Linked DNA regions of Homo sapiens. The protein of the gene in region 1 purifies or fractionates together with the protein of each later gene. This does not show direct contact. Each region holds a gene or a part of one and is shown on either strand. Other genes may lie near its edges.

Region 1 (3,500 bases):
GGACTTGCATATCTTCATCAGAGGGACAGAGAGTCATCTGAGAGGGCACAGGGCAGGAGTCCTTCGGGGCCTCTCTGACCTGGCCCGGGGCAGGGAGCTGGGGATGGAAGTGCCATGAGTGCAAATAGGGAGCAGGGGGTCAGAGGAACAGAGGATATGGGAATGGGTGGTGGAGCCGGGAGAGACTGGAGCTTTGCCAATGGGGGCCTGGGCTGAGCAGGGCTCAGAGCATGTGGTGATGAGCCTTATGGCAGGTGAGGCTCAAGGCCCAGTGTGTGCTTAGGGAAGTGGGCAGCAGAGCGGGTGAGGGACCCGTGGGTGTATCACAGGGGTAGGGTGTTGAGGAAGTTCCAAAGCAAGCTAATAGGGGTTATGGCTGGAGAGAGGCCCAGTGTGTGTGCTAATGGGGGATAGTGTGGTAGAGGCACCAGGGTGTGTGCTAATAGGCCTCTGAGGCCTCGTGTGTGGTGATGGGGGTGTGTATGGTGTTAGTGCTGTGTGTGTGTCTGTGGGGGCCTGCAGGGTAGGAGAGAATGGGGTGCTTATGGAGGGGAGGTGGTTGAAGGACTCAAGTGCTGGGTGTGCGCTTGTGGGGGTTGTGCCGTGGTGGGTGTGTGCATGCGCTAATAAAGGTCTGGGTAGTTGGAGCCCAGTGCATGCTAATGGAACAGAGCTGGAGGGACCTCATGGAGGGATCTGATGGAGGGAGGACGGTGGGAGACCTGAGCCTGTGCTAGCGGGGATGAGGATTGTGGATCTCTGTGAGGTAGGGGGTGGTGGTGGTGCGGGAAGGGTCTTGGTACCGTCAGAGGCCCGGTGCGCTAAGGGTCAAGTTGGTGTGAGGTGCACGTGTGTCCCTGAGCACGAGGACACTCTAGGAAGGGGCAGCCGGATGGTTTAAGGCGTTCTAGAGGCTGCTACTGTGGGTTTAGAGCCATAGAGGCACTGAAGTGTGTGCCATTGCTGGGAGAGTCAGCAGTGTGAGGTCTGGAGTACGCTCAAGAGCGCCAGAACAGTATGAGCTTGTGTGCTTGCATCTGTGGGGTACTGGAATGTGTTGAGGTTCCAGGGAATACTGATGCAGGGGATGAGTAGAGCCGTGGAGGGGATAAAAATAAATTTAAAAGGCCAGGTGCAGTGGCTCATGCCTGTAATCCCAGCAATTTGGGAGGCTGACGCAGGAGGATTGCTTGAGGCCAGGAGTTCAAGGCCAGCCTGAGCAACATCGTGAGACCCAGTCTCTACAAAAAAAAATACAAAAATTAGCTGGATGTGGTGATGCGCACCTGTAGTCCCAGCTACTAAGGAGGCAGAGGTGACAGGATTGCTTGAGTTTGAGGCTGCATTGAGCTATGATTGCACCACTGCACTCCAGCCCGAGTGACAGAGTCAGACCCTATGTCAAAAAAAAAAAAAAAAAAAAGGAAGAAAATCATAGAATTTTGGAGATGAGTAAAGTTTAGGCAAATTTAAATGAAGTAGTGTTTTGATGGGCTCAAAGCCATGTAGAACTGAGTGTAAAGGGGCCAAGATCTAGTCTGGACTGCAAAGTGGTCCTCTTTCCTTGGAGACTACCAGGTTAACATAGATGTGCAGGATTATCTCCAGAAACTCCTTATCTGAAGGTCTGCCCTGTTTGGGAACTGAGGTTGCTTCTGTGTGTCAGAGTGACTTTGATCCTCCAGGAAAGCATGGGATGTTTTATCCCAACTGATAAGACTTCAAACTGCAAAATTTCTGGTAGTCTGTGATTGTAGAGAACAGAATTTCTAGGTAGTAAAAAAGGAGTCTTCATCCAAAGGGGGTTTTTGACACTTTATGGCTGCAGTGTGTTCTAAGGAGAAATGCCGTTTCCTGTTAACTTTGTGGTTTCATTGACGTCTTGTCCCAGCTCTGTATATGGGAGTGGATTTTGTTTTCTCAAGGAGGAGGTAGGAACAAGCTTCCTGTCCTGGATTTTTCATGGCTGGCTCCTCTCAGGCCTCTAGTCACAGTGTGAAGGTCACCTCCTTAGAGAGGTCTCCTGGGATGCTTCCTCCAGGGAGTTCCTACACAGTTACTCTCTATCTTTGAACCCCCATCACAGGATGATGATAGACCTATTTGTTTACTTGTTTATTGTCTGTCTTCCCCACTAGACTTTTCCCCTAAGCTCCAGCAGGATAGGAACCATGCTGGTGTAATTCACTGTGTGTGAATGTCTCCAGCACCCACTGCAGGGCTGGGCACATAGAAGCTGCTCAGGACATGTTGCGGGAATGAGCAGCTGGAAGTCAGTGATGGAGAAGAAGAGAGCAGACTGGGACAGAGAGACTCTGATGGGCTTCCCCACGGCCCTGCTCTGTCCTGGGGCTTGAGAACCTGAGGAAACCTGGACTTGAGGCAGGAGGAGGGCCCTGGGAAAGTTGGACCGTTTGGACTATGGCGATTTGTCTGGGTACATAGCTGCAGTTTCTGTTTACACACTTCCTGTTTGGTACTTTGTGGCAGGGTGTTTCCCGACCAGTCCCTGGGCGCCAACTAGAGTATGGACTGACCAGGTACCTGGATGGAGACCTGAGCTGGAGAAGGAGATGCGCTTGGGAGGTAACCCTGCATGTCACAGCTGTCTCTGACCCAGTTCTGTCCCAGTGCCCCAGCATTCCAGTGCTGTTTAGCTGGCTCCCACTGGCATGGCCACATCCACTGTTAAAGTCTCCATATACTTCCATTCTGCTCCATTCTGCTTCTGTAAATCACCTCTGCCATCCACGGTCCTACTTCAGGCTTCTCCGCAGCCAGGCCCCTCCACCATGGCCTTGCACGGCTCCAGCGGTAGAGCCCACACATTATCAGTGGTTACTTATCGCTGGTGTGACATCTGAGTGGTCATCTCTCCAATCTCATCGCTGTTATTCTAGCTCATGTACTTGTCAGCTCCTGTCCGTGGTCATAACCAGGGCTTCTTAATAACTGGTCTCCCAGCCTCAGTCTCTTTCACCCCAAATCTACCTTTCATAACTGCTGAAGAGTAGCTTTTATTTCTTAAAACTGTTGAGGGGATTCTGAGTACCTCCCAGGGAACAGGACAGCTGCTTAGCTGAGTTCGACAGAGGCCCTCAGCTTCCCAGCCTCCACCTGCTACCCTAAGCAGCCTCCTTCTGCTGTCCTTTGTCCACCCTCTGTCCCTGTCCCACCAGTTGACTAATACATTTTGCTTTCATTTTACTGAATATTCATGAGCATCTATTTAATGCATGCTACTGTGAGTCGGACAGAGTCAGACACAAACACCTCCCACCTAACCTAATCTAGAGGAACCCGCATTTTAGTTTGTAATAAAAAGTAATGATTATGGAAACAGCTAACATTGGGCATTTGGGATAAGCCTGGTGTTCGATACCTGCTTTAATCCCCACGGTAACGCTGCAGCTTACAGGACCCTTGAGTAGAAGAGGCATCAGAACACATTTTTGGAAATGAAAGGAAGTGAAAGCTGACTGTCATGACTTCTTGTTTCA
Region 2 (2,501 bases), on another chromosome or scaffold:
TGGTCTCTGAGACTCCAGGAGGAGGAGACTCCAGGAGGCCTGCGTGCGTTCAGATGCTTGACTTTGCTTCCTTGGGCCCTGCCTCCTTTTCCCTCCCCACAGCCTTCCCCTGTGTCTCCTGAACCTCTTCTTGCTTTCATGACTGAGTAGTTCAGGCTCTGCCTTCCCCACAAAACCCTTCCAGGGCCACCCTAGTGAACTGCGGGGCCCTATCCCTGTGCCTCAGCTCAGTTTGTTGTCTTCTGTTCACCTGTGTGTGTCCCATTAGACTGAGAGGAACAAGTGCCGAAGGCAGGGACAAGGTGTGGAGTACAGATCCCCAATGATGGGATGGAGGCTGGGTAGAAGAGGGAGGCGTTTGGGTGACAGCCTTGTTCTTGGTAAGCTAGAAGTAGGATGTTTTCTCGCTGGGGGCAGTTTCTCTGACAGCAGGCACCGGAAGCTGTCTGAGGCGTCAGTTCCAAGAACCTCAGTTTCTTTCTTGCAAGGCCTCTGAGTCCATCAGAGACTGAGCCCAGTGCCCTGAGGTGGGCAAGGCCCCTGCCCAAGATAGGAGGGTGCTCAGGTTGTTGGGCCACAGCTGAATCCTCCGTGTCTGAAGCCTAGTGCCATCAAGGACTGGACCTGTGGGGCACAGGACAGCTTGCAGCTACACTCTATGCCAAGGGCTTCCCAGAGAAGGCCGACCCAGGTGGCCAAGGGCCAGGGCCCAATTGCCCACCCCCAGCCAAGTGCCCCAGAGAAGAAGGTGAAGACCCTGACCTGCGCTGGGTTGTAGTGGGGAAGGAAGAGGACAGTCGCACCCAGACACTGCTTCTGAGAAGCTCACAGGCCAGCAGGGGAAGCCCTTTCACAGCTGTTGCCACCAGTGCAGGAACGTGGTGCTGCCTCCTAAGAAGGGGCAGGGCAGGGGCTGGGGAGCACAGTGAAAGGAACCATGGACTGTGCCCTTGGCCTGGGGAAGGTGGTGGTGGCCCTGCAGGGGAAGCTGGAGGATGTTAGGAGAGAGCATGAAGGCTCAGGGGCTGAGCGCTGTAGCCTGCTGCCTTGGGAAACACTCTGGTAGGCTTCTACTTTTCAGAAGGCCTGGCTCTCTGCTTCCTGCTCTCCCCTTCCCAGAGACTCATGAGTTCTCACATTTAAGAAGTCCTCTTTCCGTCTATCCTTAGTGGAGGTGTGAGCAGAGACTGGATTGGCGTCCCCAGGAAGCTGTATAAGCCAGGTGCTAAGGAGCCCCGCTGCGTGTGTGTGAGAACCACCGGCCCCCCTAGTGGCCAGATGCCGGACAACCCTCCACACAGAAATCGTGGGGACCTGGACCACCCAAACTTGGCAGAGTACACAGGCTGCCCACCGCTAGCCATCACATGCTCCTTTCCACTCTAAGCCGTAGCCTCTTCTGTTAATAACACACAGAGAGCTCTGCCAAGCACCTGAGTAGGCCCTTGACACTTGTGTGCCCTGGGATGCCTCCTGGCGCGAATCAGGAGGGTCTGGAAGGACTCTGGCTATATTCTGCAAATGTGGCTCATGCCCCTTACCGTGGCTCGGCGTTGTGGTGCCTGAGGGACAGCCGGCCACCTGCCCAGTACTGGTCAGCTTTTCAACACTATTCCCTTTGACCTACTGGCCATCTTCCTCACAGCCCTCAGATATCAACGGGCACAAATAAGACCAACTCAATTTCCACTTGAATTTACAACCAAAAGCCTGCTGAGTTGATTACAGCTGGGCCAATACAGTACGAGGCAATAACAAATTAGTGTGGGTTGATTCTGGAATTGGAAAAGCTTTTGCTTGTATGGATACAGCAAATCCAGATGTCTCTGAACAAAGCAACAATTTAAAGCAACGACATTTTCTGTCCTTTAAGCACTTAAAATCAGGTGTGGTGTGTTTTCAAAGGCAGAAGTCTGCATTTTGAGCAAAAGGTGGCTTCCCAGCTCTAACAAGGTAACTGGTTAGCATGACATTAAAGCTTGGGCAAGGCTTCAAACTTAAGGTGGCTGGGCTTGCTGCTTGTCCAGTGGTTTGTATGTCCAGCGTCATCTGGCAATGTCATACCTGTTACCTCTTGACTACTTGTGAAGGTAGATGGGGGCAAGGAGTGTTCCTACTTCAGACAGAGAAGTGGGACCAGCACTACCACAGACAGCGCCACGGCCTCTGTGCATCGCCTCATCAGAGCTTCCACCCAGCTCCCTTTGCCGCTCAGTCTCACCCTCAACATCCACCAGCTTCCTCCCTCTCTGTCACTGTCTCCTTTTTCTCCATCATTCATTTCACTAAATCGCTTTCCAGATTCACAGACTAGAAAATGGAGGCTGCCTCCCCTTCACTGGCAGACCCGTACTCACTGCCCCTGTCCCCTTCACTGGCAGACCCGTGCTCACTGCCCCTGTCCCCTCACTGGCAGACCCGTGCTCACTGCCCCTGTCCCCTCACTGGCAGACCCGGGCTTATTGCCCCTATGGCCACAGCTGTTCCTTACACTTGGGCTC
Region 3 (3,985 bases), on another chromosome or scaffold:
GTGGGCAGTTTCAGAGTGGCGGGGAAGAGGAGAGCTGCGAGGGGGAGGGGCAGCGGCTTATCTCTCCCAGGAGGGGGGAGCTCACTCCAAACAGCTAGTGCACTGGCGTGTGAAAGCCCCTCAATTAGCACTAATGATGCAATCAGGGAGGGAGGAGGAGGGACCGAAGTTCTGGTGGCGTCAGCACCAACTTACACACAAGGTACACATTCCCTTCATCGGACACAATGGCCCCTTCAGACACGCCGAGGCACACACTCCACAGACAGCCGTCCGTGGGCACAAACGCACTCTTTGCCCAAGCTACTAGCATGCACATGGTTTCTTATACGCGGCTGACCCCGTCAGACCCCAGGCATCTTGAGGGGTAGGGAGCGACCCCCAGCTGCATTTGGGGCTTTAGAGGCAAGGAAAATCAGAAACACTTTGGTAAAAGGAGTTGAACAGGGCATCCTCGGCGAGCTCACGAGCATTCCTCTATGCCTAGAGCTCCTGTCCCACGCGCGCTCGCAGGTGCTGGCCCGGCTGTGCCCGCTTCCCCCTCACCATCGCCCCAATCCGGAATCCGGGGCTGAGCGAGGAGCCGCCACCCCCGGCCCCACCCGCGAGAGACGGGGTCCACGCGCCTTCCCTGCGCCCAAACCGCCCCGAGGCCCCCAGTCCCAGGAGGGAGCGCTGAGATCACTCGGATCTCCGCACCCCGGACTTAGCTGCTCGTCCCCTCCGGAGCCCGCTACCCGCCGGCCTCGCCCCTTTATCTTTCCCCCACTCCGCCCGGCCGGCTCCGTTATCCACCTCCCAATCCCGTTATCCGGCCGCCCCGGCCCCGTTATCCGCCCTCGCGTTGGGCGCGGAGCCCCCGCGCGCCTCCTGGCCGCCGCCGCCCCCTCCCCCGCTCCCAGACGGAGCTCGGGGGACCGCGGGCTGGGCGGGACCGCGGGCTGGGCAGGACCGGAGCCGCCTCCGCGCCGCTTCCCAGGCCCGGACGGCCGCGGGAGGAGGTCCCGCTGTCAGTCAGCGGGGAAGGCCGGGCCGGGCGGCCGGAGGGGGCGGCGCCGAGGACGGGCTCGGGCCGGGAGCTGGGAGGTGGAGGCGGAGGGGCGGGGGAGGGGGCGGGGGAGGGGGCGGGGGCGGGGGCGGGGGGCGGCTCTGGGCCTTATAAGCGGCGGGGGCAGGGCGGCAGGGAGGCAAGTGTCAGGCCGATGTGTCGCCCGCGAGGGGCCGGGGTCGGGGCCGCCGGGGCCATGCGCGCGGGCTGGGCAGGGGGCCGGCGGGGCGCAGAGCGGAGCCGCCTCGGAGCCTGAGCCGCCCGGGGCCGGGGCCGGGGAGCCGCGCGGGGCCGGCCGGCCGGGGGGAGGGGAGCGATGCGGCGCCGGCGGGCGGCAGTGGCCGCGGGTTTCTGCGCCTCCTTCCTGCTGGGCTCCGTCCTCAACGTGCTCTTCGCTCCGGGCTCGGAGCCTCCGAGGCCAGGCCAGTCCCCTGAGCCTTCGCCGGCCCCGGGTCCGGGCCGTCGCGGGGGCCGCGGGGAGCTGGCCCGGCAGATCCGGGCGCGCTACGAGGAGGTGCAGCGCTATTCCCGCGGGGGCCCCGGGCCCGGGGCGGGCCGGCCGGAGCGGCGGCGCCTGATGGACCTGGCTCCGGGCGGGCCCGGCCTGCCGCGCCCCCGGCCCCCTTGGGCCCGGCCCCTGTCCGACGGCGCCCCAGGCTGGCCCCCGGCTCCCGGCCCAGGCTCCCCCGGCCCGGGCCCGCGCCTGGGCTGCGCCGCGCTTCGCAACGTGTCCGGCGCGCAGTACATGGGCTCAGGCTACACCAAGGCCGTGTACCGGGTCCGCCTGCCCGGCGGTGCCGCGGTGGCGCTCAAGGCGGTGGACTTTAGCGGCCACGATCTGGGCAGCTGCGTGCGCGAGTTCGGGGTACGGAGGGGCTGCTATCGGCTGGCGGCCCACAAGCTGCTTAAGGAGATGGTGCTGCTGGAGCGGCTGCGGCACCCCAACGTGCTGCAGGTACGAGGGTGGGGACGCGGGGGTAACGGTGTTGGCTGGGAGTGCCCAAGACCTTGTCAACCTGGCTGGAAGAGAACCCCTTGATCTGGAGTGCCAGTGACTGCACCCAGGCTAAGCTAGACGCAGAAACCGGACCATGGCCCTTCCCACTGCACCACCCTGCTTCTCACTCCTGGGTGGGCGTCCCTTTACCGGAGAACTCCTGGGTTTCTCGGCTTCCACACATCTCTTAAAGACAGGCCAGGACAGAGGCTCCCAAAACTCAGGGGGTGGGGCAGTCCATTAGGATTTAGGACTCTACTCCGGGCTGGAGTTAGGAGGTTGAACACCAGGGATATTACCCCAAGCCAAAATGACCCTAAGCCAAGACACTTGAGTCAGAATTCCAACTGTGTGATAAAGTCCCCCTTCTTGATGGAACTTCTCCCAACTTCCAGTGATTTGTCTGGTTTTGAAAATGAGACGGGACAGCAGTGGGGCTGGGAAGAGCTGGAAAGAGACCATGTGTCAGGCTTGATTCCTATAGAGTCTCCCCACCCACCCACCTCCAGCGCCACCCAGAAGACACTGGAAGGGGGCTGGGGAGCAGGCTAGAAAAAGGGAACACAGTCCTTCCCAGAAGTGAACTAAGGGTTCCCCAGGCCTTAAAGTGGGTCCTTGAGCCCCTGGAGAAGCCTGAAGGTCTCAGCTCAGTGGACAGACTGGCGGCCTGAGGATCTAAATGTCACACTGTCTGAGTGTATATAGATAGCCAAGAGGCTGGAAGGTTGAGAAGGCCAAATGCTCAGGTTCCTACTCAACGGGACTCTGCCTCGCCTGTTCACTGGAGACACAGGCGAGAGCTGAAACCCCCACCTTGTCCCCTCCAAGCTAGACTTTGAGTGGGCCTCTCACAGTCCCAGCACCGCCCTAACACTCCACGTCCTCTCTCTCAGGTCTCCCCCCATCCTAAGATTAGACAGACTATTCCCTTTGCACATGTCTGAGCAAACAGAGGGGAATCCCTGACCGCTGTTGGCCCGGTGAACATGGGTGTGTGCAGCCTCCCCAACGGATGAAATCTTGCACACACCTTCCACCTACCAGCCCACTCAAACTAACCTTTCTGCACCCAGCAGAAATGACTGGAAACCCAGGAGTCCCTCTCTCCTTTCCTTAGGAGTGAGATGGCACCCCAGCCCTGGAGGGAGATGGGTGGGCGTCGTAGAGCAGGAGAGACTGGCCCAAAAGTTGTTTATACTCCTGTTGGCTCCCAGTCTCCCCCTCCCCCATCGTATTCCCCAACCCTGGTCAGACACTTGTGACCGGGCCCTGGGCCCCAAACTGGTCTCAGGAGCTCGGGCAGAACCAACACTTGCGTGTAGTGAAGCCTGGCTGCACAGCTCACACCGTGTCTGCAGCTTCAGGGAGTGAGCCCCTGGTTACGTGGCCATTCTAACTGGGAGGATCTTGTACTCTTTCCTTCCCAGGGACTTTTGGGAACTTTTTGGAAACTCTAGGGTGTCAGCCAGATCCTGAGGGAGTGGAGAGGTCTTGAGTGACTTAGCAGGACATAAAGTCTTAGTTACTTGACTCAAGACCCCTCTCCCTTCAGACGGGTTTGATGTTTGATGTGCTTTCCTATCTTTTAAGAAACTTGTCCCTCACTCTTCCCGCCAGCTCAAACTTCCTGACAAGCATTCAGCTAACGCCCCACATATATATCACGTGACGGTCCTCCTCTGAAATGTCAGGCCCCCAGCCCAATTCTGAAGGCACCAAAGAAAAAATTACAACAGAATAGTTTTCACCCTTCCCTCACCAAACCAAGACCAGGGTTGTCTGGGGTTAGCTGTGTGACTCTTTATTGTAGAGTCCCAGACGAGAGTTAGTGGCCCCAGGGCACAAGGGTTGCTAAGGGAGAGAGGGTCACAGGTCCTTTCTACCCAGGAAAAGTGAAAAGTGGGGGGCCCTTTAGTGTGAGTTTAGGGACTGCTTTGATG
Region 4 (3,500 bases), on another chromosome or scaffold:
TTACTCAGGAGGCTGAGGCAGGAGAATCGCTTGTACCCGGGAGGCAGAGGTTGCAGTGAACCAAGATTGTGCCTCTGCAGTCCAGCCTGGGTAACAGAGTGAGACTTCCTGTCTCAAAAAAAAAAAAAATCATCGGATGGATGGACGGACCACTTCTTGTTATTTATCCATCCACGGGTGCTAGGTTTCTTCCACCTTTGGTTGTCGTGAATAAGGCCACTATGAACATTTCCTTCCGTGGTGAAGGTTTTGTACTAGTGAGGAAAAGGCGTGTTTGTGGTGTTGCATAGGATTCTGGTAAGAAAGTTTGCACTAACCATAAGTATTTGTACTACATTAAAATGAAAGCTCAGGGGCCGGGCGCGGTGGCTCACGCCTGTAATCCCAGCACTTTGGGAGGCCAGGGCGGGCGGATCATGAGGTCAGGAGATCAAGACCATCCTGGCCAACATGGTGAAACCCCGTCTCTACTAAAAATACCAAAAAACTAGCCAGGTGTGGTGGCGGGCACCTGTAGTCCCAGCTACTTGGGAGGCTGAGGCAGGAGAATGGCGTGAACCCGGGAGGCGGAGCTTGCGGTGAGCCGAGATCGCTTCACTGCACTCGAGCCTGGGCAACAGAGCAAGACTCCGTCTCACGCAAAACTCTGTCTCACGCAAGACTCCGTCTCAAAAAAAAAAAGAGTTCAGGGTTTATGAAACTGGCCAGCCGCGTAAAGTTTGCTGTGTTGTTTTTGTGCCCGGGAGGAGTGTGGCCAGGGTGTCACGTCACACAGTACACGTTTCTCAGATGGTGGTTCTCCAGACTGCTGTCCCAAAGTCTGTTTTTGCATCTGGTTCCCACAGACCCACCCTCCACGGTGAGCCTGATTTTGGCCAGGGTAGCTGGAATCTTGCTTGTCTTTCAGCCCGGCAGCTGTACCAGTCCAGGGTCCACAGCTAGTGGCTTTTAGGAAGGAATTTGTTCAGTTGGCTTTGACACATGGCCCCCTAGGGTCCACAGCTCTGTAGTGATGTGGATGTTGTTATCTACAAAGACACATGATCCTTCGTGTCCAGATGAAAGTGATGATGTCTTTGCAGCTGCCCAGCAAGGCTGTGTGTGTGTGTGTGTGTGTGTGTGTGTGTGTGTGTGGTGTGTGTGTGGTGTGTGTGTGTGTATGGGGGAGGGAGGCACCCTTTCCATCTGGGGGTGTGTGTGTGTGGGGTGTGTGTGTGTGTGTGCGCGTGTGTGTGGTGTGTGGTGTGTGTGTGTGTATGGGGGAGGCACCCTTTCCATCTGGGTCCAAGAGACTGGGCCTGGGGAAGACGCTTCTTTTTATCTACTTAGAGACTTTGTTTTATTTGTATTTTTTTGAGACAGGGTCTCACTCTGTCACCCAGGCTGGGGTATGGTGATATGAGCATAGCTCACTGCAGCCTCGGCCTCCCAGGCTGAAGCGATCCTCCCACCTCAGCCTTCTGAATAGCTGGGACTGTAGGCGTGCGTCACCATACTGAGCTATTGTTTTTTTTGTTTGGTTGGTTTAATTTTTTTTGATACAGATGGAGTCTTGCTATGTTGCCCAGACTAGTCTCAAACTCCTGAACTCAAGTGATTCTCCCACCTCAGTTTCCCGACATTCTGGGATCACAGGTGTGAGCCACTGCTGTCTCCCTGTTTTATTAACTGCTGAAAGACCTAGATAAAGAAAGTCTGAAAAGACTTACTATCAGAGCACCATCCTAAGATGATTCCCTCTGACTCAATGGAGAGGGAGGGGAGCTTTTCCTTCAGGCCTGGGTGGCAGGAGCCCAGGTGCTCCAGGCCCCATTTGCCCCAGGCCAAATCACTCGGGAACTTGGATGCAGCTGTCTTTCAGGGTAACCCAAAGGAACCAGATCCCCGCAGGCAGTAGGCTTCTGGGCTGTCCTCTCCTCCTACGTCAGCTCAGTAAGAGCCCTTCGAAGGGATGCTGTGTCGGAGGCCCCAAAAGCCCAGGCTCATCCCTGAGATGCACAGGGTGGGCTGGGCTTAGGCAGCGCTCGAGCATCTCCTGGACGGTGACCCCAGAGAGTGTGGAGACGGAGAGTCCTTGAGAGTCACTGAGAGACGTGGCTGCCCTGCCTTCCCAAGAGGGGCTCTGAGTCATTCCCCACACTCACCTGCCCCTACCCACCCTCACCTGGCCCCCAGCCTCACCTACCCCCACATCTGTACCGATCCCTTTACCCGCACCTTCCCTACCCACCCTCACCTCCCCTGTACCTTCACCTCCCCCACTCACCCGCCCCTGCACCCTCACCTGTCCCCCACCTTCACCTAACCCCCACCCTCACCTGCCCTCCCCTCACCTGGCCTCCTTCCGTTGGGGAAGGGGTTGTAAGGGGCGGCCCCCAAACTGTCTGTCCTGGTGCCCTGCAGAGAAAACAGTACGTGAGGGCCGCAGTCCAAAAGCTTGAGTCCTGGAAGGTGGAGGAGACAGGGATGTGTTGGGAAGGGCCCCATGGTCTTGGATCCCTTCTCGACTGTCAATGGGGCCTTCATGGGAGCGCCAGTCTAGTGATGCACAGCTGGGTGCCCGGCGGGTGGCTGAGGAGGCCTAAAGTCCGAGGCGGCAAGAGCTCTTCCAGAGGCTGTTGTCCTAATCGCTCTGGCATACTCAGGCGGGCACGTAGTTAGGAGCTGATTGGAGAGGAGAGACCCCCACACCAATACTGGGATTTGACTTTCAGGCTAAACTTGAGAAGTGTGGCCTCTGCTGTCCTGCCAGAGCTCTCCAGCCAGTGCCCAGGGCTCTCCAGCCAGTGCCCGGGGGTCTCCACCAGTGCCCGGGGGTCTCCGCCAGTGCCAGGGGTCTCCGCCAGTGCCCAGGGGTCTCCGCCAGTGCTCAGGAGTCTTGGTTTCTTTGTCTTACAGCCCTTTGTTTTGACCTCTCTGAGCCAAGGCCAAAACCCAGACAGGCAGCCCCACGACCTCAGCATCGACATCTACAGCCGGACACTGTTCTGGACGTGCGAGGCCACCAATACCATCAACGTCCACAGGCTGAGCGGGGAAGCCATGGGGGTGGTGCTGCGTGGGGACCGCGACAAGCCCAGGGCCATCGTCGTCAACGCGGAGCGAGGGTAGGAGGCCAACGGGTGGGTGGGGGTGCTGCCCGTCCAGGCGTGCCCGCCGTGTCTTCTGCCGAATGCCAGCCTCTCACAGGCTGGGGAGACTTTCCACCCTGGGGATCCAATGGGTGGCTTTCCAGGGTCCCAAAAGCAAACACAGGCTCTTTCACAGCCCCTCCAGGAAAGCAGAAAGCCCCAAGGGCTGGAAGGGAAGGGGGAGCTCTGCTGAGAGGTTACAAGGCAGCGCTGGCCGACGGGAGTTGCAGTTGATAGGTTTTGTATCATCCTTGTTAAACTTGAACCCTGTGCAGAAATCCCTTCCACGGCATGGGGGCTGCCTGTTGACTCGCTCCTGTTCCACCACAGGGAGCTCCTGGGCTTCTTCCTCCCAGAGGCCCCCGACGC

The links. The genes of interacting proteins can lie anywhere in the genome.
Region 2: the proteins of POMK (region 1) and CYB5D2 purify together in Homo sapiens (affinity purification with mass spectrometry; 4 studies listed by BioGRID and IntAct, with this or other methods). This does not show direct contact.
Region 3: the proteins of POMK (region 1) and PKDCC purify together in Homo sapiens (affinity purification with mass spectrometry; 4 studies listed by BioGRID and IntAct, with this or other methods). This does not show direct contact.
Region 4: the proteins of POMK (region 1) and LRP5 purify together in Homo sapiens (affinity purification with mass spectrometry; 4 studies listed by BioGRID and IntAct, with this or other methods). This does not show direct contact.

Annotation. Positions count from the first base shown.
Region 1 is NC_000008.11:43,100,015-43,103,514, forward strand, and holds part of POMK (protein O-mannose kinase), read left to right. Parts: intron 1-2,490; 5' UTR 2,491-2,586; intron 2,587-3,500. UniProt on the Homo sapiens protein: Protein O-mannose kinase that specifically mediates phosphorylation at the 6-position of an O-mannose of the trisaccharide (N-acetylgalactosamine (GalNAc)-beta-1,3-N-acetylglucosamine (GlcNAc)-beta-1,4-mannose) to generate phosphorylated O-mannosyl trisaccharide (N-acetylgalactosamine-beta-1,3-N-acetylglucosamine-beta-1,4-(phosphate-6-)mannose).
Region 2 is NC_000017.11:4,155,697-4,158,197, forward strand, and holds the end of CYB5D2 (neuferricin isoform 1 precursor), read left to right. Parts: intron 1-250; exon of another isoform or gene 251-497; intron 498-1,169; coding exon 1,170-1,386; 3' UTR 1,387-2,001; downstream 2,002-2,501. UniProt on the Homo sapiens protein: Heme-binding protein which promotes neuronal but not astrocyte differentiation.
Region 3 is NC_000002.12:42,046,836-42,050,820, forward strand, and holds the start of PKDCC (extracellular tyrosine-protein kinase PKDCC precursor), read left to right. Parts: upstream 1-1,185; 5' UTR 1,186-1,364; coding exon 1,365-2,003; intron 2,004-3,985. UniProt on the Homo sapiens protein: Secreted tyrosine-protein kinase that mediates phosphorylation of extracellular proteins and endogenous proteins in the secretory pathway, which is essential for patterning at organogenesis stages.
Region 4 is NC_000011.10:68,420,591-68,424,090, forward strand, and holds part of LRP5 (low-density lipoprotein receptor-related protein 5 isoform 1 precursor), read left to right. Parts: intron 1-2,898; coding exon 2,899-3,107; intron 3,108-3,500. UniProt on the Homo sapiens protein: Acts as a coreceptor with members of the frizzled family of seven-transmembrane spanning receptors to transduce signal by Wnt proteins.